Linked DNA regions of Homo sapiens. The protein of the gene in region 6 purifies or fractionates together with the protein of the main gene of each other region. This does not show direct contact. Each region holds a gene or a part of one and is shown on either strand. Other genes may lie near its edges. The genes, in order: RIMS1, PPARA, SMYD2, ATF1, TPM1 and MYH1.

Region 1 (4,860 bases), on a different chromosome or scaffold from region 6:
AGGGGGTTAATAGTTTTATACATAGAGGCAGCCCTTACTGCATTTGCACAAAACAGTAGAGCTAGCCTAACCCTTCCTGCCTTAAATACTAGTGCTTGCTTCTCTTCCTTACTACTAAATGTCCTTTTTGGCACTTTTTTTTTTTTCCCAGAATAAAGCACCTTGCATTAAAAACCTGTTCAGGCACATATCCTTTCTCCTCAATAATTTTCTTAATGGCATCTAGAACTCGTCTCTGCTGGTCCACAGAAGCTGCTTCTACTTTTGACATTTTTTAAAAGCCAAACCTCTTCCTTAAATGATCAAGCCATCCTTTTCCGGCATTAAATTCTCTAGCTTTAGGTCCTTGACTATCCTTCTGCTTTGTTATATGACGACTTTGCTTTTTCCTAATATTAGAGTCTATAGATACACATTTTTATAGCAATCCTGCAGCCACATAAAAGCTGCATTTTTAAGGCAAGATAAAAGTTTTTCACAAAAAGTGCACGGGTTTTGCTCCTGCTGACGTAGCTGCAGCAACAGCGTCACAAATTTCTTTTTCAACAATAGTCCTTACACTGGTTGAATTTATCTTGAAATGGTGGGCAACTGCAGCTGCAGACCTCAATCTGCGGTACACATCAAGCAATTCAACTTTTTCTTGTAATGTCATGACGTTGCTTCTTGGGAGCACTTCTAGTGTCACTAATGACACTCTGTATGGGTCTCATGGTATTATTCAAAGTTAATGGTATTGCACTAAACATCACAAAAAATACGTGAGAACCACAAGATACCACGCAATTTACTGGAGAAAGAAACTGCTCAAAGGGAGATGATAAGCATCACAGGGCATTTTAAAGTGGTGCTCGCAACACTAAAATCACTGGAAGAGGCTAAGGAAATTATTACAGTAATACAGTATGCACTACAGTTAATTTCATGCAGCTATGATTTAATACCGCATGTTTACATATTTACATTTCTTCCCACTGCAAATGGCGCCACGTAGTCTATAAGTGTGTGTTTAAGGTTTTATCATTTTTAACTTTTTATAATAGATTCATGTACATTTTATGATAGCAAATGATAAAACAGACTAGTATCTATATATATAGTATGCATTCATGACATACCTAACTTTTTCTTATTTTATTAAAATATTGCCAGGCTACCCGGTTCGTCCACAAGTTTTTAAAATTGCTGCAATTCTCAAAAAAAAAATCCAGTATATTTATTGAAAAAACATCCATATATAAGTGGACCCATGCAGTTCAAATCCGTATTGTCCAAGAATAAACTGTAATCTGTTCACAAATTGTGAGAAAGGTTAATTTGAAGTTTGAAAAAAAAAAAAACTACCTTTGCAACTGTAATATTACGTAACTGATGTGGTTTTTTTTTAATGTCTACTTCCTTTATAAGGCATAATTTTCATTTTCTAGCAAACAAATTGTTTTTCACAGAATAATAAATCCACTCTAAAATAATATCTTAAAAATATTAGACTGCATACCAAATTTACCAGAATGACAGAATGCAAAATCACCAAGAACTTTTGTAGCCTAAGTTTGGAGCTTGTTGTGTTTTAAAATCCCACAAATCAATCAATAAAATTAAATTAATAAAAATAAGACCTTCCACTGGCGGTAACGCTATCTTATCTGTGAGCATTCCCAGCCTCAATGCTGAACCCAGCAACTAGCCTAGCACCTGCACCTCTGCCCACGCCTCTTCACTTGGCTGAAGTCCCCGCACGGCCGGCGCCGCCCCCTTACCTTTCTCGCTGACGCTCTCGCTCTCCAGCTCCACGTCCTCGCAGCTGGTGTACTCGGGCGTCGACACGCCCTCCTCCTCAGAGCTGCTCACCGACATCTGCCGCTTCTTGCCGCCTCTCTTGGACCGGTGCGGCTTGGGCGGGGACGGCCGCACCGACTCGGACTGGTCTGAGCTCAAAGAGTCGTTCCGCAGCATGGTCTCCACCTTCTCGCGCTTGGCCTTCCGCATGAGGACCGCCGAGCTGGGGTCCAGGCGGCTCTGCTTCCTGAGGGGCTCCTGGGCTTTGAGCTCCGGGGCTTCTGCGGGAACCGGCCCATGTCTGGGCGCCGGCGGGCTGTGGTTCGTTAGCTGCTTGGCGCCCGGCGCCCTGGTCTCCGCAGTTCTCTCAGCCGAGTAAGCCCGCGGCGAGTCCGGCGGCGAGGCCCTGGCTGCCGCCGGCGCGCGTTTGCCGGCCTTGCCCTCCGGCAGCGCCGCGCCCGCCTCGGTGCGCGGGAGCGCCACGTCGCTGTGGCGCCGCTCGTGCCTGGCGCGGGACACCCGGGCGTGCATGCGCATCTGCTGCTCCTCAGGCGGCGGTTTCACCGGGTACCGAGCTAGGTTCGGGTCGCTGCGGTACCTGGTCTGATAATCCTCCTCTTTTCTTTGCTTTTCCTCATCCGCCGCTTTGCCCTCATCCCGTTTTTCCGGCGTGTCTGGGTAATCCTGTGATCGCCCTTTCTCAAGCCTTCGGCTTTCCCGCCTTTCTTTGCGCTCCCGTTCTTCGACGGCCCCCTCCACGGGCTGCGCTGAGGTCTTTGGCACGCGTTTCCGCTCGCTCTTCAGGGCTCCTTTGCCATTCTGCTCGGAAAGCCCTGGGGTCTTCTTTCTATGATATACAAAGGAACGTCAAGGAGAGCAATTTATAAAGACTAGACATAAAAAACATGTTTTCTTCTCATTCCAGTCTTAAATCATTTCAGTTACAATAATTAGTTATAGGGATTTGGATCTGAAGGTGGAACTGTAAGGGTGTTGGAATTTTACAAGGTAAGGGATCTAATGGGAACACATATTAATTATTACCAAATATAGTTTTCATAAGAGTGTCATGCTTGTACTACATTTAGCAGCTCATTGAAGCATAGTTGCTCTTGTTAGAAGTTTACATTGAATCAATTTACTTTTCTTGAAATGCTGAAAAATACTTACCTTGCAAGGTTCATGTGAGGATTAGAGACACCATCTGTGAAGATGTTTTATGAAAGGGTAGAGTGTCATGCAAATGGAAGGAGTTCTCCAGTGTCTCTGATTCTTTGCTCTACTAATTATACTTTTTCTCATCTCTACCTTTAATTTTCTGTTTCTAACTCCTTGACAGTACAAAATACGGTCAAGAATTCTTCAGTAATTTAAAACAAATAAACAGTGTCTCTTTCAATCTTGCTTCTCCCTGAAGTTGCCCAGCTCTTTACACTGGCCACCTCTCTTCCTGCTTCTGTACTTCCCAATTCCTCATTGCTTTCCTGTGAATTTATATCATTAGTAAAGTTATTTGTCCCTATCAATCTTCTTCAAATTTTAACTAAAAAGTCAGAACAAAAAGTATCTATTCAGCCCTTGTTCTTGAAATTTTTATAGTTTTTCACTATATGTCAAAAACAGAACTCTTTTCTCTTTAGAAACTTTACAGCTCCAAATTCTCTATCTTATTTAAAGATATCATCTTCCAACCAGTTCCAAACTGCAGCTTCAGTATTTTTGTCTCTTCTTCTCCCACAACAATTTGTCACCAAATGCTATTAATTCTACGTTCCCTGAGATATCTCTGGTGTCCTTTCTATCCTTTCTCCAAATAGCTTAGTAACACTCATTCTCTTGTACTGCCCTCTTATACGCTGTGTAGCTCCCCTACAACTCCTGAGTATCTTACAAAGCTTAATTGAGAAGTCACTTCCTCTTTCCTAGGGCTCTCAAAATACTATACATATTGCCTAGCTTTGATCAAATTAGCATCCTTGTTAATTACCTAGGTGTCTGTCTTCCCTAGAATAGTGTGTGGTCTCTTCCCTAGGATTTGTCAGAAAAGGGACCATGTATGTTCTAATCATCTTTATGCCCTCTGGTTCCTGGCACAGTGTTTATCTGTAGTAAATACACAATGACTACTGGCTTGAATAATAGCTACATTCACTGAAAGCCTACTATGTGCCAGCTTGGGAACACATGTTCTCTTTTAATACCTGCCACAACCCTGCAAGTGAGTTTTTACTGCCTATTGTGGCAGAGCCAGGACTAGAATCCAGACCTATTTAACTTTGAAGTCCTTGATCTTTTACTGTATGGGCTTTGCTTGAAAAGGGGTTCAAAAGCTTTCCTTGGAGCCTCCTTTCTCCAAGTAATGGTTACACATACAAAAACAATAAGCCCAGTCTAGGTGCTAACAAAAGTCCTGGCCCCAAAATCATGAGCCTCATGAAGATAAGGGCTCTGTCTTCTTTGTCAACACTTTTTCCCAGTGCATAGCTTCATGTTTGCCCATGAATACATTTTTGAATGAATCAATCAAAGTAAATAATCTGATCATATTCGTCCCTGTTTAAATATTCAGTGGCTTCCCTTTCACCTACAATAAAAGCTATAAAATGTAACCTGTCCCTTCACCACCTCACCAGCCTTTTCTCCTCCACATTGCCTCTGCTACTTGCACTGTAGCCAGCAGCTATCCTTTAGGAGGCCCTCACGTTGGGCTTGTTCCTTCAGGCCATGTGCCTGTGCAGATACCTGGAGCACCCATCCTTCCCTTCTCCTGGTTAATTTCAAAGTCACTCTTTAGAGCTCAGCATAAAAGAAATACCCTTAAAGAAGGCTTCTCTGATGTGTCCACATACTTTCTGATAGGTCAGATTCCCCCATCACATCCTCTCAGAGCACACTTTTAATTAAAGGGCTAGGTTTATAAGTGAAACATGATCTAAGAGCTTTTCTGAGTTCATCATTGGAAGTTGGTAGCTCAGCTGGGTGACTTAGTTCATGTTTACATCTGTGCATGATATGAAAGAAATGCTTTCAACAAAGGTCTCCTAAGGAATACATTCTAGAGATAGACAACGCCCCTCAGGC
Region 2 (4,860 bases), on a different chromosome or scaffold from region 6:
CAGTTTTGCATAATATGGGAAATGAAGCTTTTGAATCCAAACTAGATATCAAGCTTCAAGTGTTCCACCATATTTAAGGAGTGATTGTGTTAGAACTAGGTTTTGTAGGCCAGGCACGGTGGCTCACGCCTGTAATCCCAGATACTCGGGAGGCTGAGGTGGGAGAATCGCTTGAACCTGGGAGACGGAGATTGCAGTGAGCCAAGATCAGGAGACCCAGAGTGGGGAGGAGGGTGGGGCAGGTCTGAGACTTGGTGCAGGAAGAGTCAACATTCACACCAGATGACCTGCCTGGGGTAGCTGGCACTAGACATCCTGGGACAGTCTCAAAGCATGAGACCTGATTCTTGGTCCAGAAAATACTGCCCTGAGCCATGTTCAGCAGGCGGTGCTCCCTTACAGACCCAGTCATTACTATGATTCTTAACAGGGTTGCTAGTGATGAGGATTTAAACATCTTCATTGTTTTTGGTTGTAAATGTAATTATTAAGTTTTTATTTCTAAAATTCTTGTTTTTGTATTGTTTTAGTGATGGGGTCTTGCTCTGTTGCTTAGGCTGGACTGGAACTCCTAGGCTCAAGCAATCCTCCTGCCTCGGCCTCCAGAGTGGCTGGGGCTATAACTATTAAGTCTCTAAAGAGAGGAATTATTGCCGGGTGCAGTGGCTCATGCCTGTAATCCCAGCACTTTGGGAGGCCGAGGTGGGTGGGTCACCCGGGGTCAGGAGTTTGAGACCAGCCTGGCCAATATGGTGAAACCCCATCTTTACTAAAAATACAAAAATTAGCCAGGTGTGCTGGCATGTTCCTGTAATCTCAGCTACTCAGGAGGCTGAGGCAGGCGAATCACTTGAACCCAGGAGGCGGAAGTTGCAGTGACCTGAGATCGTGCCACTGCACTCCAGCCAGGGTGACAGACGGAGACTCTGTCTCAAAAAAAAAAAAAAGGAGGAATCTTTTGAAAAATAGAAATCCCCCCTCATAATTTTAATCCCACCATAATAGGTTTAACATATATCTCACTGGACATTTTTCTATATACATAGGATTGATATAGGATTATAATTTCCTTTATAAAACTGTGATCATGCTACATATAAATAGTTCTGCAACTGCATTTTACCCACAATGCTACATCCTGACCATACTAAAGGACAAATTATGCATAACTGCTTTGTCTTTGTACACTTTATGCCAGAGCGCAAGGACTTCCTTCATCTGACTTGTGCCCAGCCACACAGTAACGGGCACGGCTGGTAGGGCTGAGTCAGCTCCATGCTGACAGTGAGTCAATCCCCCAGGCGCAGTATGGCTGCAGGCAGTGTGGGAGACCCCATCTGTCTCCACCAACCCTGGGTAAGGTCAGCCGAGTTTGCAGTAGGTGGATGACCTTCCTAGACCTGAGATGGGGCTATTTAAAGGAACGTGACACCGAGCCAAAAATGTGGAGGCTGCAGAGCCAGCTTCCACAGAGAGGACCAGATCGGCCTTCCCTGGGATCTGCTTCCTCGGGCAAAGCAAACCTTGCAGTCACTGCCACTTGGCTGCTGACTGATATTATATTTTGCATTAGGAAATATACTTTTCATCAACATAACCAACTGTGACAGCAACTATACTGACATCTGTATAGCACTTCATACAATATTGTCTATAATATGAATACAACATCATTATATAATATATACAGGAATATCATAATATATAAATTATATCTGTTTATAATATTAGATATAATATAAACGAAATGTGTGTGTGTGTGTGTGTGTATAATTTTTTTTTTTTTTTTTTTTGAGACAGGGTCATTCTTCGTCGCCCAGGCTGGAGTGTGGTGGCGTGACCTTGGCTCACTGCAACCTTTGTCTCCTGGGCTTAAGTGATCCTCCCACCTCAGCCTCTCAAGTAGCTGGGACTACAGGTACATGCCACCATACTTGACTAATTTTTTCTATTTTTTTTTTTGTAGAGACGGGGTCTTGCCATGTTGCCCAGGCTGGTCTCAACCTCCTGGGCTCAAGTGATCCACCCACCTCAGCCTCCCAAAGGGCTGGGATTACAGGCCCATGTCCGACCTCTTTTTCTCTATATATATATTTGTGCAAAATATATAATTTTTTTTTAAAGAAATAGGTCTTGTTCTGTTGCCCAGGCTAGAGTGCAGTGGTGCATTCATAACTCATTGCAACCTGAACTCCTGGGCTCAAGAGATCCTTTTGCCTCAGTCTACTGAGTAAGTAGCTGGGACTAAAGGTGTGCACCCCCACACCTGGCTAATATTATGATTAAAATGTCATACATTTACATAATATTAAATATGTATTTATAGATAATAACAATATATACTATAATATTATACAATATTGTTATAATTCCCACTGAATTCTCAGCAGTGACTGGGGGTCAGACGTCTTCCCACCATGTGAGTGTCCCCTCCACTGGAACAGCTCAGGCTGGTACTGGATTTCCCATTGTCAAATTTTTCAAGACAGGAGCCTGTCAGTGACATGATACCAGCAGATTAAATCAACCACTCACCTCCACAGCAAATGATAGCAGCCACAAAAAGGGAGATATCACTGTCATCCAGTTCCAGTGCATTGAACTTCATGGCAAAATCAAACTTGGGTTCCATGATATCACAGAACGGTTTCCTTAGGCTTTTTAGGAATTCACGAGTTATAAACCCATTTCCATACGCTACCAGCATCCCGTCTTTGTTCATCACAGAAGACAGCATGGCGAATATGGCCTCATAAACTCCGTATTTTAGCAATGTCACTTGATCGTTCAGGTCCAAGTTTGCGAAGCCTGGGATGGCCTTGGCGAATTCCGTGAGCTCCGTGACGGTCTCCACTGACGTGCACTGGCAGCAGTGAAAGATGCGGACCTCCGCCTCCTTGTTCTGGATGCCATTGGCCACCAGCTTGGCCACCAGCGTCTTCTCAGCCATACACAGTGTCTCCATATCATGTATGACAAAAGGCTACAAAGGAGGACACCAAGGTAAGTCAGGTGATGTGGGATGCGCTATGCTCCCAGCTATCAGCTCACTAATGAGCAGCTCCTGCGTCCAAATCACCAAGCTCAGTGCCTCAGAGGACTCAAGATACCCGCGGAACATAGTCCTTACTCAACTTCAAAATCGGTTGGGGAAAATAAGACATTAATAGAGAACAAACAGTATAAATCAGTAAAATAATAATAGTCATCGCCTGACATTGGGTGGATTTCATCGCTAAGAAACTGAAGTACTGGGCTGGGCATGGTGGCTCACGCCTGTAATCCCAGAACTTTGGGAGGCTGAGGTGGGTGGTTTACCTGAGGTCAAGAGTTCGAGACCAGCCTGGCCAGCATGGTGAAACCCCGTCTCTACTAAAAATACAAAAAAATTAGCTGGGTGTGGTGGCGGGCGCCTGTAGTCCCAGCTACTCGGGAGGCTGAGGCAGGAGAATGGCGTGAACCCAGGAGGCAGAGCTTGCAGTGAGCCGACATTGCGCCACTGCACTCCAGCCTGGGTGACAGAGCGAGACTCCGTCTCAAAAAAAAAAAAAAAATTAGCCAGGCATAGTGTGTGCCTGTAACCCCAGCTACTCGGGAGGCTGAGGCAGGAGAATCGCTTGAACCTGGGAGGTGGACGTTGCAGTGAGCCAAGATCGTGCCACTGCACTCCAGTCTCCAGTCTGGGCGACAGAGCGAGAGTAAGACTCCGTCTCAAAAAAAAAAGAAACAAGAAACTGAAGTACTGATTTTGTCAAAACAAAACTAACGAGGACATTAGCAAAGCACCTTTAATATTCTTAAATATTCTCTGAACTAATGACTATTGCAAGAGGCTTAATTACGATCATTCTTAATTTTACCAGTATATGCACTTTAGGGGTGAACACCATTATTTAACGCTGCTCAATGAATACATTTGGCATGTAAATACATACAACTCAGAAAGGTGGCATCTATGTAGAAATCGGCAAACAAGCGTTGTGAAACTCTTTAGGGATAAAGTGGAAAAGCCTCGGAATGCCCTTGTTTCTCTCAGTGCAGGAAACTGAAACCTTCACTCGGTGCTCCATATTCTGGAGCAAGTGCCAACTCCCCACAGCCGTGCCTTGTGTGCTCCCATGCCATCTGCATGTAAACCCAGTGGCCTGCCATTTCCTGAAGATCTCGTGGTGGAAGAGGTGGCTGGCCATATTATTTGAAGCCAACATGCTCAGAAGGGATTACATGTGTGGGAGAGCCGGGGAAAATGAGCACAAACACTGCTGTTGGCTGAAATTTACATCTGCGGGTAGAGCAGGAAAGTGACAACATCTGAGAGATCTCTCTGATTATAATGTGGTCCACAGCTCATGCAGACACAGGTCAATAATGCAGTGGGCTAAGGTGTTATTTCTTTTTTTTTTGAGACAGAGTTTTGCTCTTGTTGCCCAGGCTGGAGTGCAATGGCACAATCTCGGCTCACTGCAACCTCGGCCTCCCAGGTTCAAGCGATTCTCCCGCCTCAGCCTTCTGAGTAGCTGGGATTACAGGCATGCGCCACCACGCCCAGCTAATTTTGTATTTTTAGTAGAGACGGGGTTACACCATGTTGGTCAGGCTGGTGTCGCACTCCTGACCTCAGGTAATCTGCCCACCTCAGCCTCCCAAAGTGCTGGGATTACAGGGGTGAGCCACCGCGCCCGGCCTACAGCGTTATTTCTAATCACTGCTGGAACAGTGGAGCCCAAAGCGCAGAAGCATCCCAGGATTTAAAGAATGCCCCCTGCCAGTGGGCAAAACACAACCACTGACAATGCTTCTGACACACAGCCTGAAGTGTTTCCTGTTTCTGGACTCACAGCACAAAACTGTCTTCAGGGC
Region 3 (4,860 bases), on a different chromosome or scaffold from region 6:
TCTCGAACTCCTGGATTCAAACAATCCTTCTGCCTTGGCCTCCCAAAGTGCTAAGATTACAGGTATGAGCCACTATGCCCAGCCAAAATTTCAGCTTTAAAAGATTTATAGTCCAGAGGCCCTGCCACCAACTTCTCTGACAGCACTGAGGAGCAAGACCTCCACAGCCTGGACATATGCCTTCTAAGCCCCACACTGCCTATTTCATTGGATCACAAGGACAAGTTCTATGGCATTTTCCTGTCCTCTTTTTAGTTTGGCCCTTCGAAGATTAGGTGTCTAATTATTATGCAATCAGCAAGAATGAACCAGACCAGGCGGAGAACAGTCAGTACGGTGGCTAAAGCAATTTCATCTTGGATGCTGATATACCATGTTGATTTCTGGTTAACTCCTGCTCTGGGAATGCTTCTAAGATTTCTACTTTGTCTATGGCTACCTTAAATCCTGCCTTAGGTCAATACAATCTTGAGCACAAATCTTGCTCTCAGGCAGATTTGCATAGCATCCTTGCCTTTCCTTGTAACTGCTGTACACATTTCTTCCCTATGGTATATAAGCCCTGGCTCTGGTGGGTAATGGTGCAGGGATCCACCATCTTGTCTTGCTGCCGCCCAAGACATAGACATGGCTTCAGTTCATAAGTCCTAGTAAATGTTTCTAATAAACTGGATTTGTCAGCTTCTTTCTTCTGTCTCTCAGCTTCCTCACTCTTTGAGCGTAAGTTTGCATAGTCCTGCCCACCACAGAATAGTCAGAGTTGGCATCACTTCTGGAGAAAGCCATTGATGACTATCATCTGTTTCCATCAAGGGCACCTCTTTCTTTCCTTCTTCTTCACTTTTTTTTTTTAACTCTCTTCCCCTCTCCCTTGCCTCTATTTCTACTTTTCCACTCTTTCTCTTCTTTGCACATGTCATAGTCAAGGCTGTTCCATCCAATTCTTTGCCTGCCTATGCACAGGCAAGAAAGGAGCCAAGAAAGAGCAGAATATTACACAGGAAAGGGGAACAGAGTACACTCTTTATGTCAGAATGGAAAGAGAGGAAAATCTCAAAGCTGCTCAGACCAATCTGGTTCCCTAGGAAGCTCTAATTATTTGAGGTCAGGCTTTTCATGTCACGTATTTCCATGTAAACCTGTCATGAAAACAGCTCAGAATTTCAGAGCTGTGGCTATGCTCCTGGTCTAGGGTAAGCAACATCCTAATTGCACAGGGCACACAACTAACTAGATTATGCCTGGAGTATTTTCCCCACCCCTGTCCATATGGATATGATAGGAAATGTAGTCTAAGGATGTTTAACGAGAGATGGTTACCAAAGGTCAGTTACTCATCTTTCTGACCTTTAAAAGAAAAACAAAATAAAATGCACTTGAACATTGTCCCATTTCCTCACCTGTTTGGCCAGAATCCTTGCTGTTAGTCTTACAGTCTCCGAGGGATTCCAGTTTTCCCCAAAAACAACCATGGGAGAACATTCCAGCTTGTGCATGGGCCAATCTTCTTTCTGGGAAGATTGAAAAAAACATTATTAAAAAATAGCACATACACTGGAATAAAGTGTGAGAGGAGAGGATGCAGTGAGTCCCCCTAGTTAAGGTCAAGTAAAATATGTTTCCTTTTGGAAAACACGAGGATGCTCACAAAAGCTAGAGATAAAAACATCCTTTAAGATAGGCAGGATTGTATGACCTTCACTCAGGCCTGGGTCAAGCTTGTTGGGATGAGAAGATCTACTTTGTGTTTTTTCCTCAAGCACCTCATGGCTTTCTGCAGCCCCTCATTATTCTAAACAACACATACATCTTTCCATCATCTGTGCAAGCTGTCAAATTGCAGAGGGAGCAATTTGAGTATCAGCCATTGATTTGGCTTTGTTGCCTCACAGTTCCGCTCTGGCTTTGTTCTCACGTCAGGGCAAATAATGGAGAGTTGACTTACACAGCAATGAGTCCCTTTTACAGGCGACTTTTTAAAAAGCACAAATGAGGGTTTCATGAAGGGCAACCACTGGAAAGATTTAGGAATAGTTAGGACTTCCCAAAGATGCACTGGATAAAACAGTAGTATTCTTTCTTTCCTTTTTTTTTTTTGAGACAGAGTCTCGCTCTGTTGCCAGGCTGCAGTGCAGTGGCGCGATCTCGACTCACTGCAACCTCTGCCTCCCGGGTTCAAGTGATTCTCCTGCCTCAGCCTCCTGAGTAGCTGAGATTACAGGTGTGTGCCACTACGCCCGGCTAATTTTTGTATTTTTAGTAGAGACGGGGTTTCAAGATGTTGGCCAGGATAGTCTTGATCTCTTAACCTCATGATCCACCTGCTTCGGCCTCCCAAAGTGCAGGGATTACAGGCGTGAGCCACCGTGCCTGGCCTAACAGTAGTATTCTTTCTATCATACGCCCTGAAGTTTCCCTGCCCCGGGTAGAGGGATGAAGGATATTTGCTGCTGGAAGGGTGGAGGCGCCATCACTTGAGATGGGGAAGGCATTGAGAGAAGGACACCATGGTGTTTTGGAGGCTGAGGGAAGCAAGTACTTTGAGGACTAGGGAGTAAATGATGATGCCAGTGCTGGAGATAGGCTTAGTGTGAGAGGACGGAGAATGTGATTTGGAATCATGGAAGCTTGATGATTTTCATAAAAACAAGTTTTGGTGGGATGATGGGGTAAGAAATGACAGGGAGCAGATTCAAGAAAAAATGAAAGGAGACACAGCTTAGAGTAGTGAAAAGTTGCGGGGGACTTTTTTTTTTTTTTAGATGGGAAATATCAGAGCACGTTGTATACTGATGGAAGCCCTTACACACTGTCTCTTTCACGATGGAATTGGGTACTGTCCTGCTCTGTCCTTGGCCTTCCCTAGCTCAGAAAATGGCCATAAATGCTCAGGGCAGGGAGGCTGACATGGGCGGATCACCCGAGGTCAGGAGTTTATGATTGGCCTGGCCAACGTGATAAAACCCCATCTCTACTAAAAATAAAAAAATTAGCCAAGTGTGGTGGCATGTGCCTGCAGTCCCAGCTACTCAGGAGGCTGAGGCAGGAGAATCGCTTGAACCCAGGAGGCAGAGGTTGCAGTGAGCCGAGAGTGCACCGCTACACTCCAGCCTGGGCAACAGTGTGAGATTCTGTCTCAAAAATAAAAATAAATGCTCAGGCCAGAAAGCTAGAGTCATCCTTGACGCTGCTCTCTCACTCACACTCCACATTCAGTCAGTTCTGGCAAATCCTCTGTCTCTGCCTGGAATCTGATCACTTCTTAGCTCCACAACCTTTCTACCCGGCTGCAGCCCCAACATCTCTCATGACTAATGTCCTGCCACTGCCTTCTAACTGGATGCCCGCTTCTGTCCTTGCTCCCATGGACTAGGTTCCAGAGAGCAGCCTGAGGGATTCTGTTGACAAAACTCGGATCAGGCCAGTCCTCAGCTCAAAACCTAATGGCTTTTCTCATCCAGGCAAAAGGCCAAGCGCTAAAGGTGACCTAGGAGGCCACACGTGATGGGAGCGTCCCTGCACCACCCCAGCCCATCATCCCCCACCGTACTCTCACCTGCCTCACTGCACTTAGCCACAGAAGTGTCCTGGCTGCGCCTGGAGCCATGTACCTGCCTCAAGGCCCTTCGCACTTGCTCTGTTTTGTGGCTAGCACTCTCCTCCCCTGGATATCCATGTGACTCCCTCCCTCCTCTCCAGCCGCTGCTGGAATGTCACCTTCTCAAGATACCTGCCACAATCACCCTGTCAGAAAGAGCACTTCCCCATCATTCTTCCTTTCCTTGCTTTCTGCTGCTTCTTAGTACTTCTCACCACCTGAGCATATTATATATTTATTAGTTGTTTGGTTTAGTATCTGTCTCTCCCCAGGAAAATAAAGAAATTTTGTTTTGTTCATAGCTGTAACCCCAGAACTGACAACAGTGCCTGGCATTTAGTAGGCACTCAATATAGTTGTTGAAGGAATGAAGATATCTCCCTACCCGCTTCCCTCCACACTGATCCCCCAAGAAGGAAGCACATAATGTCACTTAATGATTTAATGCAGTCTATGGTGCAGCCCCTTAGCTCAAGTTCTGGGCCAAGATGTTCTGCAGAGTTAAATAATGCCGCGCCAAATATAACTAAGAGCAGGGAGGAAAAGAAATGACAAGATATGCACAAGGGAGAAGAGAATCTGTTTTTAGCCAAAGCCTAAAATGAGAGCATGGTGATGAGGCGAAGAGGTGGGAACAGGTGGGTCTGTCTCCCTGCAGACTAATCAGCTCCCTCCTCAGCTGCAGAGCAAAGAGGAAAAGACAGAGATGACCCTCGGGATACCTGAGAGGATATGGGGACCTACCAGCTGGGGACAGATGGATCATTAACAACTATAGACAAATGCCCACTCTGACTCCAGCAACTCCAAGAAAACTCCAAGACATAATCTCTGTCCCTAACGGGCCTGCAAGCTGTTGTTTTCTGAACTGCAGGTGGTGCCTTGGTGTTTAGCAACTACAATGAATTCCTGGGAAGTTAAATATGAACATTTATTAATATAATTATTATTTATAAAATATCAATTTATTAATGTAGTTGATTTAAAATTAATGGTACTGTAAATACTACATAATGGTGACATTTATTGATATAAATGTCCTCAAAAGGAAGGGAATCAAACACAAGGAAAGCTCTGGGAGGAAAGCAGAGTGCTGTCAAGCAGGAGGGCTGCTGACCTGGGACTCAAGAAACCTGCATTTTATCCCCACTCGCAGCGAAGCAGCTGTGTGACAACGCAGGTTTCTTAATCCCTTTGCGCCTGTCTCCCTGGCTGTAAATAACATGATCCCTAAGTTACTTAGCAAGTCCAGAATTCTGAGT
Region 4 (4,860 bases), on a different chromosome or scaffold from region 6:
GAGGGAGAATGGCGTGAACCCGGGAGGCGGAGCTTGCAATGAGCCGAGATCAAGCCACTGGACTCCAGCCTGGGCGACAGAGTGAGACTCCGTCTCAAAAAAAAAAAAACAAAAACAAAAACAAAAAACTCTTTTTTCCAAAATAAAAATTTTATAGTTTCATCTCATAAACAACAGTACATACTGTTTTACTGATGTTATCAGAATGTAACCTTTATTTGTTCACTTTTTTAAAGCTATTATTTCTAAAATTAAGGTTAAGATTAACAATGTGTTAAAAACTTGTTCAATACAGAATAAATTTTATATGTACGAATGCATTTTCTGTAAAAATAAAGTAAGCCCCCAGTTAGCATATATAAGCTTAACAGGAGATAACCCAAAGTCAGGCAGAAACAAGGGAGTAGTGAAACACCGCTTCAAAAGCACCATCAATGGGAATAGAAGGAACTGAGAAATGGTGGGCTGAGATCTTGCTGACATAGAGAGAATGTCAGGGAAGGCAGGGCCCTTTTAAGAAAACTTGCAGCCGGGCGCGGTGGCTCACGCCTGTAATCCCAACACTTTGGGAGGCCGAGGTGGGTGAAACACCTGAGGTCAGGAGTTCAAGACCAGCCTGGCCAACATGGAGAAACCCCGTCTCTACTAAATATAAAAAAGAAATTAGCCAGGCATGGTGGCACATGCCTGTAATTCCAGCTACTCGGGAGGCTGAGGCAGGAGAATTGCTTGAACCCAGGAAGCAAAGGTTGCAGTGAGCTGAGATAGTGCCAATGCACTCCAGCCTGGGCAACAAGAGTGAAACTCCATCTCCAAAAAAAGAAAAAAGAAAAGAAAACTTGCAAAGAAAGAAACATTATATGTTAGGCAATAAACTAAGAGCTTTTTAAGCTCAACATTACTGATCATTAGAGAAATGTAAATCAAAACCGCAATGAGATACCATCTCACGTCAGTCAAATGGCGATTACCGGCCTGGCATGGTGACTCACACCTGTAATCCTAGCGCTTTGGGAGATCGAGGCGGGCAGATCACTTGAGGTCAGGAGCTTGAGACCAGCCTGGCCAATATGGCAAAACCCCATTTCTACTAAAAATACAAAAATTAGCCAGGCGTGGTGGTGGGCACCTGTAGTCCCAGCTACTTGGAAGGCTGAGGCAGGAGAATCGCCTGAACCCAGGAGGCGGAAACGATGCAGTGAACAGAAATTGCACCACTGCACTCCAACGTGGGCAAGAGAGCAAGACTCAGTCTCAAGAAAAAAAAAAATAGCTGGCATCGTGGGTGACTGTGGTCCCAGCTACTTGGGAGGCTGCCCAGGAGGCGGAGGTTGTAGTGAGCCAAGATTGTGCCACTGCACTCTAACCTGGGCAATAGAATGAGACTTTGTCTCGAAAAAAAAAAAAAAAAAAAAAAGAATGGCAATTAAAAAGTCAACAGTTGGCGAGGTTTGGAGAATAAGGAATGCTTTTACGTTGTTGGTGGGAGTGTAAATTAGTTCAACCATTGTGGAAGACAGTGCAGCAATTTCTCAAAGACCTACAGGTAGAAATACCATTTGACCCAGCAATACCATTATTGGTATATACCCAAAGGAATATAAATCATTCTATTATAAAGATACATGCCCACATATGTTCACTGCAGCACTATTCACAATAGCAAAGACATGCAATCAACCCATATGCCCATCAATGAGAGACTGGATAAAGAACATGTACATATATATCATGGAATACTATGCAGCCATAAAAAGGAAAGAGATAATGTCCTCTGCAGGGTCATGGATGGAGCTGGAAGCTGTTATCCTCAGCAAACTAACAAAGGAACAGAACATCAAACACTGCATGTTCTCACTTATAAGTAGGAGCTGAATGGTGAGAACACGGGGACACATGGTGGGAGAACAACACACACTGGGGCCTGTGGAGGAGGGTGCGGTGGGGGAAGGGAGAGCATCAGGAAGAACAGCTAATGGATGCTGCGCTTAATACCTAGGTGATGGGTTGTTCTGTGCAGCAAACCATCATGGCACATGTTTACCTATGCAGTAAACCTGCACATCCTGTGCATGTACCCTGGAACTTAAAAGTTGAAGGGAAAAAAAAAGGCTAGGCGCACTCCAGCCTGGGTAACAAAGTGAGACACCCGTCTCTTAAAATAAAAGAGAGAGAGAGAGAGAGAAAAATATATTTAGACAGTTACCTCACCCCAGCTTTAGAAATGGGACAACTTGGCCAGGCACAGTGGGTCACACCTGTAATCCCAGAACTTTGGGAGGCCGAGGTGGGTGGATCACTTGAGGTCAGGAGTTCGAGACCAACCTGACCAACATGGTGAAACTCGGTCTCTACTAAAACTACAAAATTAGCCAGGGGTGGTGGCACATGCCTATAATCCCAGCTACTTGGGAGGCTGAGGAAGGAGAATCGCTTAAATCCAGGAGGCGTAGGTTGCGGTGAGCCGAGACCATGCCATTGCACTCCAGCCTGGGCAACAACAGTGAAACTCCATCTCAAAAAAGAAAAAAAAAAAAAAAAAAGGAATGGAGCAATTCAGGCACAACAAAACTTGCAAAAATATAGCCAAGTGCGATGGCTCATTCCTGTAATCCCAGCACTTTGGGAGACACTTTGTACCCTTAAGCGATAGGATCGCTTGAGCCCAGGAGTTTGAGACCAATCTGAGCAACACAGTGAGACGCTATTGTTACAGGACAGGGTCCCAATCCAGACCCCAACAGAGGGTTCTTGGATCTCGCACAAGAAATAATGGGTCAAGTCCACAGTGTGAAGTAAAAGCAAGTTTATTAAGAAAGTAAAGGAATAAAAGAACGGCTACTCCATAGACAGAGCAGCCCCGAGGGCTGCTGGTTGTCCATTTTTATGGTTATTTGTCGATGATATGCTAAACAAGGGGTGGATTTTTCATGCCTCCCCTTTTTAAACCATACAGGGTAACTTCCTGACTTTGCCATGGCATTTGTGAACTGTCATGGCGCTGGTGGGAGCACAGCAGTGACGACGACCAGAGGTCACTCTCGTGGCCATTTTGGTTTTGGTGGGTTTTGGCCGGCTCCTTTACTGCAACTGTTTTATCATCAAGGTCTTTATGACCTGTATTTTGTGCTGACCTCCTATCTCATCCCGTGACTTAGAATGCCTTAATCATCTGGGAATGCAGGCCAGTAGGTTTTAGCCTCATTTTACCCAGCCTGTTTAAGATGGAGTTGCTCTGGTTCATACGCCTCTGACATTTCCCCCCGTCTAAGAGAACCCTTAATCCTAAGGGTTGCAGAGGGACGAAGATCCATCTTCTATAACTTCTTCAGGCTAAATAGGGCAATGATATTCCTGCCTGCCTATGAGGGTCTCTTGCATTCAGGGTAAAAAGGAGCTCAGTCAGAAAGCATCAGTATGGTAAGGTTCATTCATAACTCAAGTTTCAACAAAAGGTGGTATCTGGAAAATTAGTAAGAAAACGTTCAGTAAGCTTGTCCTGTATTCCTACACAAAAAGTATAACAGCAATATATTCCACAAGAGTAAAGCAAAATAGGCTGGGTACAGTGGCTCACACCTGTAATCCAGCACTTTGGGAGGCCGAGGCAGGTGGATTACCTGAGGTCAGGAGTTCGAGGCCAGCCTGGCCAACATGGTGAAACCCTATCTCTACTAAAAATATAAAAGTCAGCTGGGCGTTGTGATGTGTGCCTGTAATTCTAGCTACTTGGGAGGCTGAGGCAGGAGAATCACTTGAACCCAGGAGGCGGAGGCTGCAGTGAGCCAAGATGGTGTCACTGCAGTCCAGCCTGGGCGACAGAACAAGACTCTGTCTCAAAAAGAAAGAAAGAAAAAAAAAAGAGTAAAGCAAAATAAGTAAAGTTATTCCAAATAAACTAAATTAGAAGACTTTTCATGAACCAGGCAACCACTGGAACTAAGCTGATATCGGGTTGTTAGCTGATTGTAATGTGCCCAGAATCAGAATACTGATCCAGATTTTTAAATTACCCATCCCTCTTATTTCTTCTGAGCAACAATTAGAGATTACTGGTTGGTTTACAAGAATACGCAGGGTTAGCCTAAATTGCAGAAACAAACTTAAAAACAATTAATGAGACCAGAATTTAATAACAAGTGTACCATAGTTTTTGAAACATAGTATTTCTCTCTCCAGTTTCCCATTTTTACTAAAGACAAATTATGGTAAGACTGACTTGCTTTATTATACTTGGCCTGATTGTTTGTATAAAGTGCAGCAAGAATAATAATTTTTCACATAGGCTTTTTAATTGGCTTTGATGGAACTCTGTTTCATAAGGAATCTCAGATAAGACTTTTTTAAAAGCCAAGCCCTGACATGGGTTTGTACCCTTAAATACCTATAACTTGGGTAAATTTCTCTCCTTTTGAGGTCCCAAGATAACTTGGGGCTCCTGGACAGGTGAGAAAGTGACATTCTTTACTTACCATAGGTCAGAAACCCTGTACAGGCACTGTGTAGGCAAGGTATGAGGCCAGTTCCCCAAAGGGCTTTTATTGGCTCTACAAGTCAAGTTTGATTCCTTAAAGAAAAGCACACCATTTCAGTCAAAGCCTTGGTAAAATAACCACTTTCTCCAATTGTATTCTGTTACAAAAGAAAACAGATTCTTATTGCACTTATGCAAATAATTACATTGCCATAAGTTAAGAATACTCACAACTAGTTTCCAAATTCTGGAGAAATCTGATATAGAGAAACAAATATGTTCCAAATTTCGTTCACAGCAGTATACTTTACTCAATTGCTATGAACTGTAAATAGCTCAAATGAAAAGTTTCCTTGACTCTGAAAAACAAAACAAAGGATCAGCAA
Region 5 (4,860 bases), on a different chromosome or scaffold from region 6:
TTTTTGCTTCCGCTTTGAGTCTCCCCCCCACCCTCAAAAGGAATAGAATTTTACTGGAAAATGAAAATATAGAAAAGTGAAGAAATCTTACCTGACCCAAAAGTATATCCTTAATATATACATCCTTCCAGTAATAGTAATAAAAAAAAAAAGCCTAATGGTTTTTAAAAGACACTTCCCTATAATTGAGAGATTTGTTATCCTATTACCCTCACCCTTCAATACACACACACACCAGAAACAACAGTCATCTGCCAGTAATTCCTAGCTGGGTCCATTTACCAGCTGTGCACTGATAATGATTTACTTTGTAGGCAGTACAGTTGTAAATGCTCTTCCTCTGATTTATTTCACATTTGCCCTGCTCCCTGCCTCCATCAACCAATTACTACATTTTTGTCAAGATAAAAGTGTATTTACATGTTTTTATAGAGTCCTTCACCGTGGTTGGAGATGCCCTACTCACCTCTCTTCCCAGATAAAACTTGGCATTTAAAATCTTACAAATCTAGGTGAGCAAAGAGCTGAAGGTTCTCAGATTCCTTTGATTAAAGACTATGACCACAGTTTCTAACTACATTTGCATTTCCAACTCTGTATTGTGGATCCATAAGCTGAGAACGTTGCTTTTATTAAAATTAGGTTGGTTTTACTCATCTTACTGAGCCCATACTCTGTGCAGAGAACTGTGAGTTCTCTGGATGTGAGCAGCTTACAGTTCAATGACAAAGACAGGGCTGTGTGTAGAGAAATTTGTTATCCTATTACCATGGGTCCCTAAGTGTGTATTGTAATTTCTAGAAAACTCCTAAGTGTTCTGAAAACCCCACCACCCCTTAGTGAACATACATTCAAAGTGGATGAGGATATTTTACCTGATTAGTAAATTCCATCTCCCACTTCCATGCACAATATTTAAACAGCCACCAGTGCAAGTGTGTATAATGGACCATCATAGTCTTATAAGTGTTCTGAGGCTCATAGCAACAATTTCTTATGACAGGAAAAAAATCATTGCCTCTCAAAGAAACCAACATTTTATTTCAGTGACAGATACCAAGTAAAAACAGTACTTGTATTATTTTTCTTTTTAGGAGTTTGATACTTTTCTTGTATTAACCTTGACTTCAAAGAAAAATCATAGGCTTACATCAAAAACACTTGGGAAATTTGTCTTGGCTCTGTTCCAATGAGGCCAGTTATTCTAAAAGGGGTTACTGGATTGTGTTGGGCCTTCATGTGGTGTGTATTTTAGAACCACTGAATTTTAAACTATTTAAGTTCCTTTGTAAGGATCCTATGATAAAGTGGCTTGAAGGAAAGAGTTGAGTGAAACTCTTGAGTCCGATTTCTGGCTGTACTGCTATTGTCTTACATGGCTGAGCCTGGGTAAGTCTTGTCTCAGTTCACACTTCAGGCCCCCAGTGAGTGAGGTGGCCGTGATGACGCTCTTGTTTAACAGGCAAGTAAAGCCAGGGTGTTGAACTCTACGGAAGTGGGCCGGGCGCAGTGGCTCACGCCTGTAATCCCAGCACTTTGAGAGGCCAAGGCAGGTGGATAAGGAGGTCAGGAGATTGAGACCATCCTGGCTAACACGGTGAAACCCCGTCTCTACTAAAAATACAAAAAAATTAGCCGGGCGTTGTGGCGGGCGCCTGTAGTCCCAACTACTCGGGAGGCTGAGGCAGGAGAATGGCGTGAATCCAGGAGGCGGAGTTTGCAGTGAGCTGAGATCGTGCCACTGCACCCCAGCCTGGGTGATAGAGCGAGACCCTGTCTCAAAAACAAAACAAAACAAAACAAAAAAATCTACGGAAGAAAGGAACCATGTGAAAGAGCGTTTGCTAATGATCTGTCTGTCTGATGAGAATTGTGTGTATAGATTTGTGTATACACAAATATGGATGTTCACTGTATAAATCAATGTGTAAATGTGTCCGAGAACTCCAGAGTTGATGAGGGCTTGTAATGCACTTAAAGGTAGCTCACCACAAGACAGTCTTCCTATCTGAAATCAGCATTGCAGTCCCAGCCATTTCCTGAAGCTACCACCCTCACTTTCTCCCCAACTCTGAAATGCTTTTCACTCTCTACCTAGGCTGAAGCCGACGTAGCTTCTCTGAACAGACGCATCCAGCTGGTTGAGGAAGAGTTGGATCGTGCCCAGGAGCGTCTGGCAACAGCTTTGCAGAAGCTGGAGGAAGCTGAGAAGGCAGCAGATGAGAGTGAGAGGTGAGAATGCCTCATCAGCCATCTTTTGCAGCTGCCTTTCCTGGTGGAATAAACCGGAGGGCTCCTGTGATCTTTGAGGTTTAAGAATTTTTCAGTCCCCTGGTGGTGGGATCATTTCCTCTATTGATCCCAGGTATAACTCGGTTGGTTTTGTTCATTTAGCATTAGTGAAACACCTACTATGTCCAAAGCACTGTCCTAAGCCCTAAGGTTACAAAGAAGAAGATGATCTTGTTCCTGCCCTTACAGAACTCACCATCTAATGAGGGAGACAGACATGTAAAGGAGAAATGTCAGGGATACAAGTTGGCCCTTTCACTCCTACTGACCACAGAGCAATTGTGCATTTTTTAAAGTGTAACTTTATTTTATAATATACAAGGAGGCTTAGGTGTAAATAAAGGAACTGTGGACTATCAGTTGTCAAAATAGCTTAACAAATAGGTGGAAGAAAAAACACAAAGCAGAAACATGGTCTGCAAAAGTAAAATATTTTGGACTTGGTCTTAGTAATATACACAACACACATGCACACAAATAGTCAGATGCTCGTGTGTTCTGAGCCCACCTCCACTGTAATCTGGCTGTAGCTGAATTATTACTCAGATTCAGCTTTGTGGTAGTAAAGGAAAGCATGGTTCGTATAGACCAGCACAGCCTTGTGTGGTCTAAAAGGCATTTTCCCTTAAGCTCAACTGTTGGAAGTAAGGATTTGCCATATTGCATAGAAGTACTTCAAGAGAGACTCCATGAGGTGAGAGAGCGTTCTGCCGCTTGAGGGATGGCATAGCATGAAGGGGCTCAGAGCACTGAATGTGTATCTGTCTGTGCTGTGACCTGGGCAAGTGAATGCAGTCAGTCATCTTGTCCATTTCTTACTCTTTGAAGTGACCCTACCACTAGGTACCAGGTATAAAGAGTGATTTCAGACTTTAGGATTAAAGAAGATTTTTAGCTAAACTTTTTAGGCCATTATTCACCGCTGCTTAGTGTTTCTTCGCTAACCAAGCATTTTGGACTTCTTTAAGATGACTAAGCATCTTACAGTGTACGCATAAGAGCAGTTTTGTGGCTGACTTCTTTCTGAAATATACTTGTTAGTGTACCTTAAAGGCAGTCTGGTAATGTTAGACTTCGGAGTAAAGGGGACTTGGGGATCATTTAGTCCCTTAGTTTTACAAATGAGAAAAGTAGGGCTCAGAGGCTGATGTGACTTGCACCAAGGCTCACAGCATATTTGTGGCTAAGCCAAGACTCCGACCCAGATCTCCTCAACTGTATTCCAATGCTTCATCAAAAGATAGTGGGCCAGATGTGGTGGCTCACACCTGTAATCCCAGCACTTTAGGGGGCCGAGGCGGGCAGATCACTTGAGGCCAGGGATTCGAGACCAGCCTGGCTAACGTGGCATAACCCCTAAATCTACTAAAAAATAGAAAACTTAGCCAGGCGTGGTGGTGCACACCTGTAATCCCAGCTACTCGGGAGGCTGAGGCAGAAGAATCGCTTGAACCCAGTAGGTGGAGGTTGCAGTGAGCCAAGATCACACCACCGCACTCCAACCTGGGTGACAGAGCGAGACTCTGTCTCAAAAAATAAAAATAAAAAAATAGTGGTTCACTTATACTGCCTACTTAAATTTTGATAAATGAATTCCATTTTACATGACTTGTTATTCCATATATCTGTAAAATATCATAGGTCATTTAGTATTTTTCTGAAACATTACACCACGCTATAGGACCCTAATATACACCATGCCATAGGACCCTAATACACTCAGTGTAGAGGACAGTGTCAGGCCTGTCTCCCAGCATTGCTGTCATGAAAGGGTTCCATTATAGGTAAAACTTAATTTGATGCATTCAGTTGAACCATAAGAAATTGCCATTATTACTTGTCTGAAATGGTCAAATATCAGCATTCTTTGTGGACTTAATAGTTTATTAAATCTAACATTAAGTCTAATATTTTTGTTTATGGGTGGCAGGGTAAGAAGATTCTTTGTAGAAAGAGGTATATAAAGATAAGTTTGATTTTGTTCTAGCTTTGGTTCATGTGCAAGCTGAGGCTTCCCACAGGAAAGGCAAGAAATCTCATTATCTTTTTAATAGTAAAGCATATTGGCTTTTCCGGTTTCATACTGCCAAGATTCAGACAGATTCCTGACGTGGTACCTTTCGTCATCATTAATGTTAGATGCCTGATAGTTTCATCAGTACTCAAAGTGAGAGAGTTCATTCACAGTGAACAGAGAGAAATGTGTCTCTTTTTTCCACCTTTAGCTCTGGAAATTGTTGTTTCCTGGTTTGGAAAATAAAAGTAGCTCTGTGCTCTATTTTGGTCTACCACTTACACTAAGCCTCACAAGCCACAGCAGTGCAGTGTGCATTTGGGAAGTTCAGCTCTAAATCTTGGGTTTTCTTGCTTGTCTTTCTTTTCAGAGGCATGAAAGTCATTGAGAGTCGAGCCCAAAAAGATGAAGAAAAAATGGAAATTCAGGAGATCCAACTGAAAGAGGCCAAGCACATTGCTGAAGATGCCGACCGCAAATATGAAGAGGTCAGATCCTGGGGCCCAAAGCCTTGTGGACACCCAGCAGTGGCCTTCAGGAAGCCAGGGAGCAAT
Region 6 (4,860 bases):
ACCTGATTCTGTTTGCAGGCGCGCTCTCTGTGCTGTGAGGTCATTGATCAGCCGCTGCTGCTCCTCTTCCTTGGTCTTAATTTCACTCAGTTGATCTTCTAGAGCGCGGCACATCTTTTCAAGGTTTCCCTGCATTCAAAAAGTGGTAGAAGGCATCTCAAGTAAGTAGTTGGACCAAAGAAAGTTTCAGTAATCTAAACATTCCATATGAGCTGCAGTACTCATTTATTTTGAGAAGAAACTATCTTTACAAACAAAACCAGCAAAGGTCTTAGATAGTGAATGGAAAGACTAATAAGATACATAGTCCAAGCATACAGCCACTGAATTACTTGTTAATCTAACTACTTTACTAAGTTGTACTATACGTGATATGAGAAAAAGGGTGCCTGATTTAGTTCATGAGACGTTTTTGAGATACAAATCATATTTGTGCTAAAGGGAAAAACAAAAAACCAAATAATCAATGTGAAGTGTTGATTGTACCTTGGCTTTGGAGACAGTCTCCATGTTACTAGCAAGGTCATCGATCTCCATCTTCATCTCACTCTTCTCCTTCTCCAGCTTCTGCTTCACTCGCTGCAGGTTGTCAATCTGCTCCCCAAGCTCGGCCACACTATCTGCATGCTTCTTCCTCAGGGTGGCCGCCGTGGCTTCATGCTGTAGGGTGGCCTCCTCCAGGTCCCTGCGCATTTTCTGGAACTCAGCCTCCCGCTTCTTGTTCATCTCAATCTGGGCTGAGGTGGCCCCACCGGCTTCTTCCAGCCTCTCGCTGATCTCCTCCAGCTCCCGGGAGAGATCAGAGCGCTGCTTCTCTGCTTTGGCCCGGGAGGCCCGCTCTGCCTCGATTTCCTCCTCCAGCTCCTCAATGCGGGCCTGGGAATGGTGAAAAATATTAATACGAACTCAACTTCTTGGTGTCAGTAACTTTTCGATGTTAAATTAGCCTGGCGAAAATCATTTAACGTACTTGTAACTCCTTGATTTTCTTCTGCAGCTGCATACCAAGGGCTTGTTCATCTTCAATCTTGCTTTGCAGACCGCTCATTTCAAACTCTTTCCTATTAGAAAAGCCCTTTATGTCAGTCTCAGAAATATTAAGAGTAATTTCCCCACAAAACTGTTGACCTAAAACTGCTTACTTTTTAAGCTTTTCATCAAGTTGTTGTTTGTCATTTTCTATATCCATTGTGGATTCTTGAGCCAATTTTAGGTCTCCCTCTAGTTTTCTCTTTGCTCTTTCTAGATCCATCCGGATTTTCTTTTCTTGTTCCAAAGATCCTTCAAGCTAAAAGTTAATAATCCATGAATATGGTTCTTAGAATGGTAGCACCTTTTGTCCCAGATGAAATTTTTAAACATTATATCTATGCAGCAAACTATTTTTCTATGAATTAGGCAGATTTGTCCCATTGATTCCATTCTCCTTGGTATTTACCTAGTCGAAAAAGTCATCGTTTAAAAGGTAAAATGTGCCTCTTTGTCACGTTGTTACAATAAGTTACTAGTGAGACATTATGCCTTCTGCATCTCCCCACTGGAATCCAATACTTTTCCAGCTGGGATGGACACCATGCTAATACTTCCAAACCATGAACTTTTTTAACGCCTCCCTTACTCAGGCATTTTCAGTGGGTTCTCTATTAGATATCAGATCATGTTTAAAGCCAAATTTATCTTCCACATTCCTAATTCTGAGTGTCCTTTGTTTCTGTGAGAGAAAACCTTATTGATCATTACAACTTCTTTGCTGCTGCTATGCTGCCTTCTTAGAACACCCTCCCTCTTCTTTCTTTTTGCACATAGCCCCTTGTCTTTCAAGCCCAGCGAAAGACCTGTTTTGCTTGTATAGCTTTTCTTTGTGAACACATTAACCTTCCTTTCCATCAATTCTTTTTACCCGTATTGTCTATTATTCACAGTTAACTTTCTTTATTGATTTTAAAAACTTTATTGTGTGTACATCTTAGACCTTGTAATAGGGATGATGTTCCATATTCCTCATTCATAGGAGGCACTTGATAAGTACTCACTATATCATAACGACACAAACTTATGCTTACTTAGTTTGTTACAAAATTTAAAAAATCATTTTTATATAATGTTAGGCTTACATCATCCACTTGTTGTTCAAGTTTGATTTTAGCTTTGGTCAGGGTGTTGACTTTGTCCTCCTCTGCCTGCAGGTCATCCAGGGTCTGCTGGTGGGCCTCCTGGAGAGCCTTCTTCTCCTTGGTCAGCTTAGCAATGGTTTCATCCAGACCCGCCATCTCTTCTGTGAGGTTTTTCACCTACAAAGGTGAAGAAAGCAGCTTAGTTGCTCTAAAGCACCTTTGTTGGGTGGCAGAACCTCTATACAGTACTGTAGAATATGATTGATACCTTGTTTTCTGTGGCATGTTTCTCCTTCTCAACCTTGGCCAGTGTCAGCTCAAGGTCATCAATGTCTTTCTTGAGTTCTGAACATTCATCCTCCAGTTTCCTCTTCTTGGCTGTCAGCTCAGCATTGATCTCTTCCTCATCCTCAGCTCTCTCAGTCACCTCTTTGATTTTGGCTTCTAGCTGGATTTTGGTTTTGATTAGCTGGTCACACCTTTCCTCTGCATCAGCCAAGCTGTCAGCTTCCTGAGAAGAGGCAATAGATATTTTAGATTTTATGAAAATTCCTAGACATTTTCAGATTTTATTAATATTTTGAAACCAAACAAGTAAATTGTTTTAAGCCTTCAGGTTAATTTTTATTAGCTTTCTACCATTCAGTAAATATTGGGCACTTATGAGTCCGGTAATAAAAAAAGGAACTTAAGTCATAGTTCCTGGTGAAATTATGTTACAATTATATTTGTTATAACATATATAATATGTTGGTATATAATTTCGGGTCAGCCAATTTTCTTTATTTAATATTTATTTTCAGGAGCATTCAATATATGAAAAACCAATAGACAAAAGGATTGGGTTTCTAGCAGGTTGCTGGGAGAGAAGGGTACTATCAGAAAAGTGCCTTAACAGGAAGAAATGTCATCCAGTGACAGAGTAGACAAAGGGAATGGAACATGTTCAAGGTGATGCTTAGAGAAGTAGCAAGCATATTTCTCATAAGAAGAAATAGGAGTTGAGATAAACTGTGAGGGAAGGACCATGTCTCTCATTCAAACTTACATCCCTGTCCGGGACTTCACCCAATATTTATTAGTGGATAGTTGATAGAATATTGTTAAACAGAAGTTTTATAATACTATCCTCAAAGGAGAGGAGTATTCTTGGATAGATTATCTCCTGTTTCTTGAAGGCACGATGAACCACTCCTCAATGTGGAAAACCCTGATCTATACAAAGTACAGGAAAGTCACAGTACCAACCTAGGTATTTGCAATTCATCATACTTTAGATTTTCTAAATATGTGTCCCAAACTTGTAGGCACAATGGGACTAGTCAATTCCCTTTCTGAATTCAGAGAACTGGGATGGTAACTTTTAATGTTTCTGCTGTTGGTTTTGGTGGCAGCAATTGAACTGTCTTGTTATTTGTGTTACAAAAATGGGTTAGATAGTGGCTTTTGATCAAATATTTCTCTCCAAGCCTCTGGATAGTTACTGGGACATTAGAATAAGAATATCAACCCTATCTCTCATACTTTGCATAAAAATAGACATTATCTGTGGAAGGCATTGCCATTATCCTTACAGAAAGCATTGCCATTATTCTTGCCATAATCCTACTCTTTCAGGTACTAAAAGTTTCTAAAAATAAAGTTGAGCACAAAGTTGCTCGGGGATTGTAGATACAAAACTCAGAATATTGATTTCAAGTTAATGTGTTTTCATCAAAGTCTCCTTCCTCTTCACTGACAATATTTTTCTTTTTCACAGCTCTTATTTGCATTTTTCAGTAGGGAGAATTTAGGGAGCAAAGCTCACTTTATTTCCTGTTCACATTCTGCTGTAGAAAACAACAGAGGGGAAGGAAAAATGCTTTTATTTTTCCCTTCTTGACATCAAAGAATCCTACCACAGTGATTTTTAGTAATATTGTATAGGGAATTCTATAGAACATTCTAAGGAGTTGTGGATTATTAAAGATTCATAATCTGTCCCTTATTTGGTAGAATCTAGATCTCTCCTTAGTGACCACTGAGCTGAAGTTTTAGCATCAGATTGCAGGAAATGACTTCGGGATACTCACAGCTTGAACCTGGAGTTGCAAGTCATTTTTTTCTTGCATCAGAGTAACCATTTTTTCTTCCAGCTCTTTCCTTTTTGCCTCGGTCTTAGCCAGCTCTTCTTTGGTTTTCTCAAATTCTTCCTTCATGTTGGCCATCTCCTTCTCTGTCTCTGCACTTTTGAGGAGGGGTTTGATCTTGAAATACAGCTTCATCCAGGGCCAGTGCTTCACATTCATGAAGGCACGGACATTGTACTGGATGCAGAAGATGGACTCTCTGTCATAGGAACAGAAATGTCCAAATCAGATTATAATAAGAAGCAGAATTAAAACACCTAAGATGATGAGGTTAAGTAAAGAATTCTTATTAATACCTTCTTTCCACCATTTTCTGGTACTCCACTCTTGCCAAGAACCCTCTGCACATGGCCTGGGTTCGGGTAATCAGCTGGGCCAGCTTCTCATCTCGCATCTCCTCTAGGAGCCCCAGAAGACCAGCTTTGAAAAAGACCTATGTGTGGGAAGAATTTCAGATCAGAAAATTTACATAAAGTTCAAAGGGACAGGAATAGCATCAGGTAGGATTTACAGAATATTACCTTGGTGTGACCAAATTTATACTGGGTGTGGTCAATGTCAATGGACCCCAGGAGCTTCTCTGAAGCCTTCTTGCTATCGATGAATTGTCCTTCAGG

Evidence for each region.
Region 1: the proteins of MYH1 (region 6) and RIMS1 fractionate together in Homo sapiens (co-fractionation; one large-scale study listed by BioGRID). This does not show direct contact.
Region 2: the proteins of MYH1 (region 6) and PPARA purify together in Homo sapiens (co-immunoprecipitation; one large-scale study listed by IntAct). This does not show direct contact.
Region 3: the proteins of MYH1 (region 6) and SMYD2 purify together in Homo sapiens (co-immunoprecipitation; one large-scale study listed by IntAct). This does not show direct contact.
Region 4: the proteins of MYH1 (region 6) and ATF1 purify together in Homo sapiens (co-immunoprecipitation; one large-scale study listed by IntAct). This does not show direct contact.
Region 5: the proteins of MYH1 (region 6) and TPM1 fractionate together in Homo sapiens (co-fractionation; one large-scale study listed by BioGRID). This does not show direct contact.

The regions. Positions count from the first base shown.
Region 1 is NC_000006.12:72,180,050-72,184,909, reverse strand, and holds part of RIMS1 (regulating synaptic membrane exocytosis protein 1), read right to left. Parts: intron 2,627-4,860; coding exon 1,761-2,626; intron 1-1,760. UniProt on the Homo sapiens protein: Rab effector involved in exocytosis. May act as scaffold protein that regulates neurotransmitter release at the active zone.
Region 2 is NC_000022.11:46,229,915-46,234,774, reverse strand, and holds part of PPARA (peroxisome proliferator-activated receptor alpha), read right to left. Parts: intron 2,984-4,860; coding exon 2,536-2,983; intron 1-2,535. UniProt on the Homo sapiens protein: Ligand-activated transcription factor. Key regulator of lipid metabolism. Activated by the endogenous ligand 1-palmitoyl-2-oleoyl-sn-glycerol-3-phosphocholine (16:0/18:1-GPC). Activated by oleylethanolamide, a naturally occurring lipid that regulates satiety.
Region 3 is NC_000001.11:214,311,413-214,316,272, reverse strand, and holds part of SMYD2 (N-lysine methyltransferase SMYD2), read right to left. Parts: intron 1,512-4,860; coding exon 1,401-1,511; intron 1-1,400. UniProt on the Homo sapiens protein: Protein-lysine N-methyltransferase that methylates both histones and non-histone proteins, including p53/TP53 and RB1. Specifically trimethylates histone H3 'Lys-4' (H3K4me3) in vivo. The activity requires interaction with HSP90alpha.
Region 4 is NC_000012.12:50,770,002-50,774,861, reverse strand, and holds part of ATF1 (cyclic AMP-dependent transcription factor ATF-1), read right to left. Parts: intron 1,414-4,860; exon of another isoform or gene 1-1,413.
Region 5 is NC_000015.10:63,054,887-63,059,746, forward strand, and holds part of TPM1 (tropomyosin alpha-1 chain), read left to right. Parts: intron 1-2,098; coding exon 2,099-2,232; intron 2,233-4,676; coding exon 4,677-4,794; intron 4,795-4,860. UniProt on the Homo sapiens protein: Binds to actin filaments in muscle and non-muscle cells. Plays a central role, in association with the troponin complex, in the calcium dependent regulation of vertebrate striated muscle contraction.
Region 6 is NC_000017.11:10,500,624-10,505,483, forward strand, and holds part of MYH1 (myosin-1), read right to left. Parts: coding exon 4,765-4,860; intron 4,677-4,764; coding exon 4,540-4,676; intron 4,443-4,539; coding exon 4,187-4,442; intron 2,626-4,186; coding exon 2,383-2,625; intron 2,292-2,382; coding exon 2,115-2,291; intron 1,289-2,114; coding exon 1,143-1,288; intron 1,062-1,142; coding exon 971-1,061; intron 877-970; coding exon 487-876; intron 130-486; coding exon 3-129; intron 1-2. UniProt on the Homo sapiens protein: Required for normal hearing. It plays a role in cochlear amplification of auditory stimuli, likely through the positive regulation of prestin (SLC26A5) activity and outer hair cell (OHC) electromotility.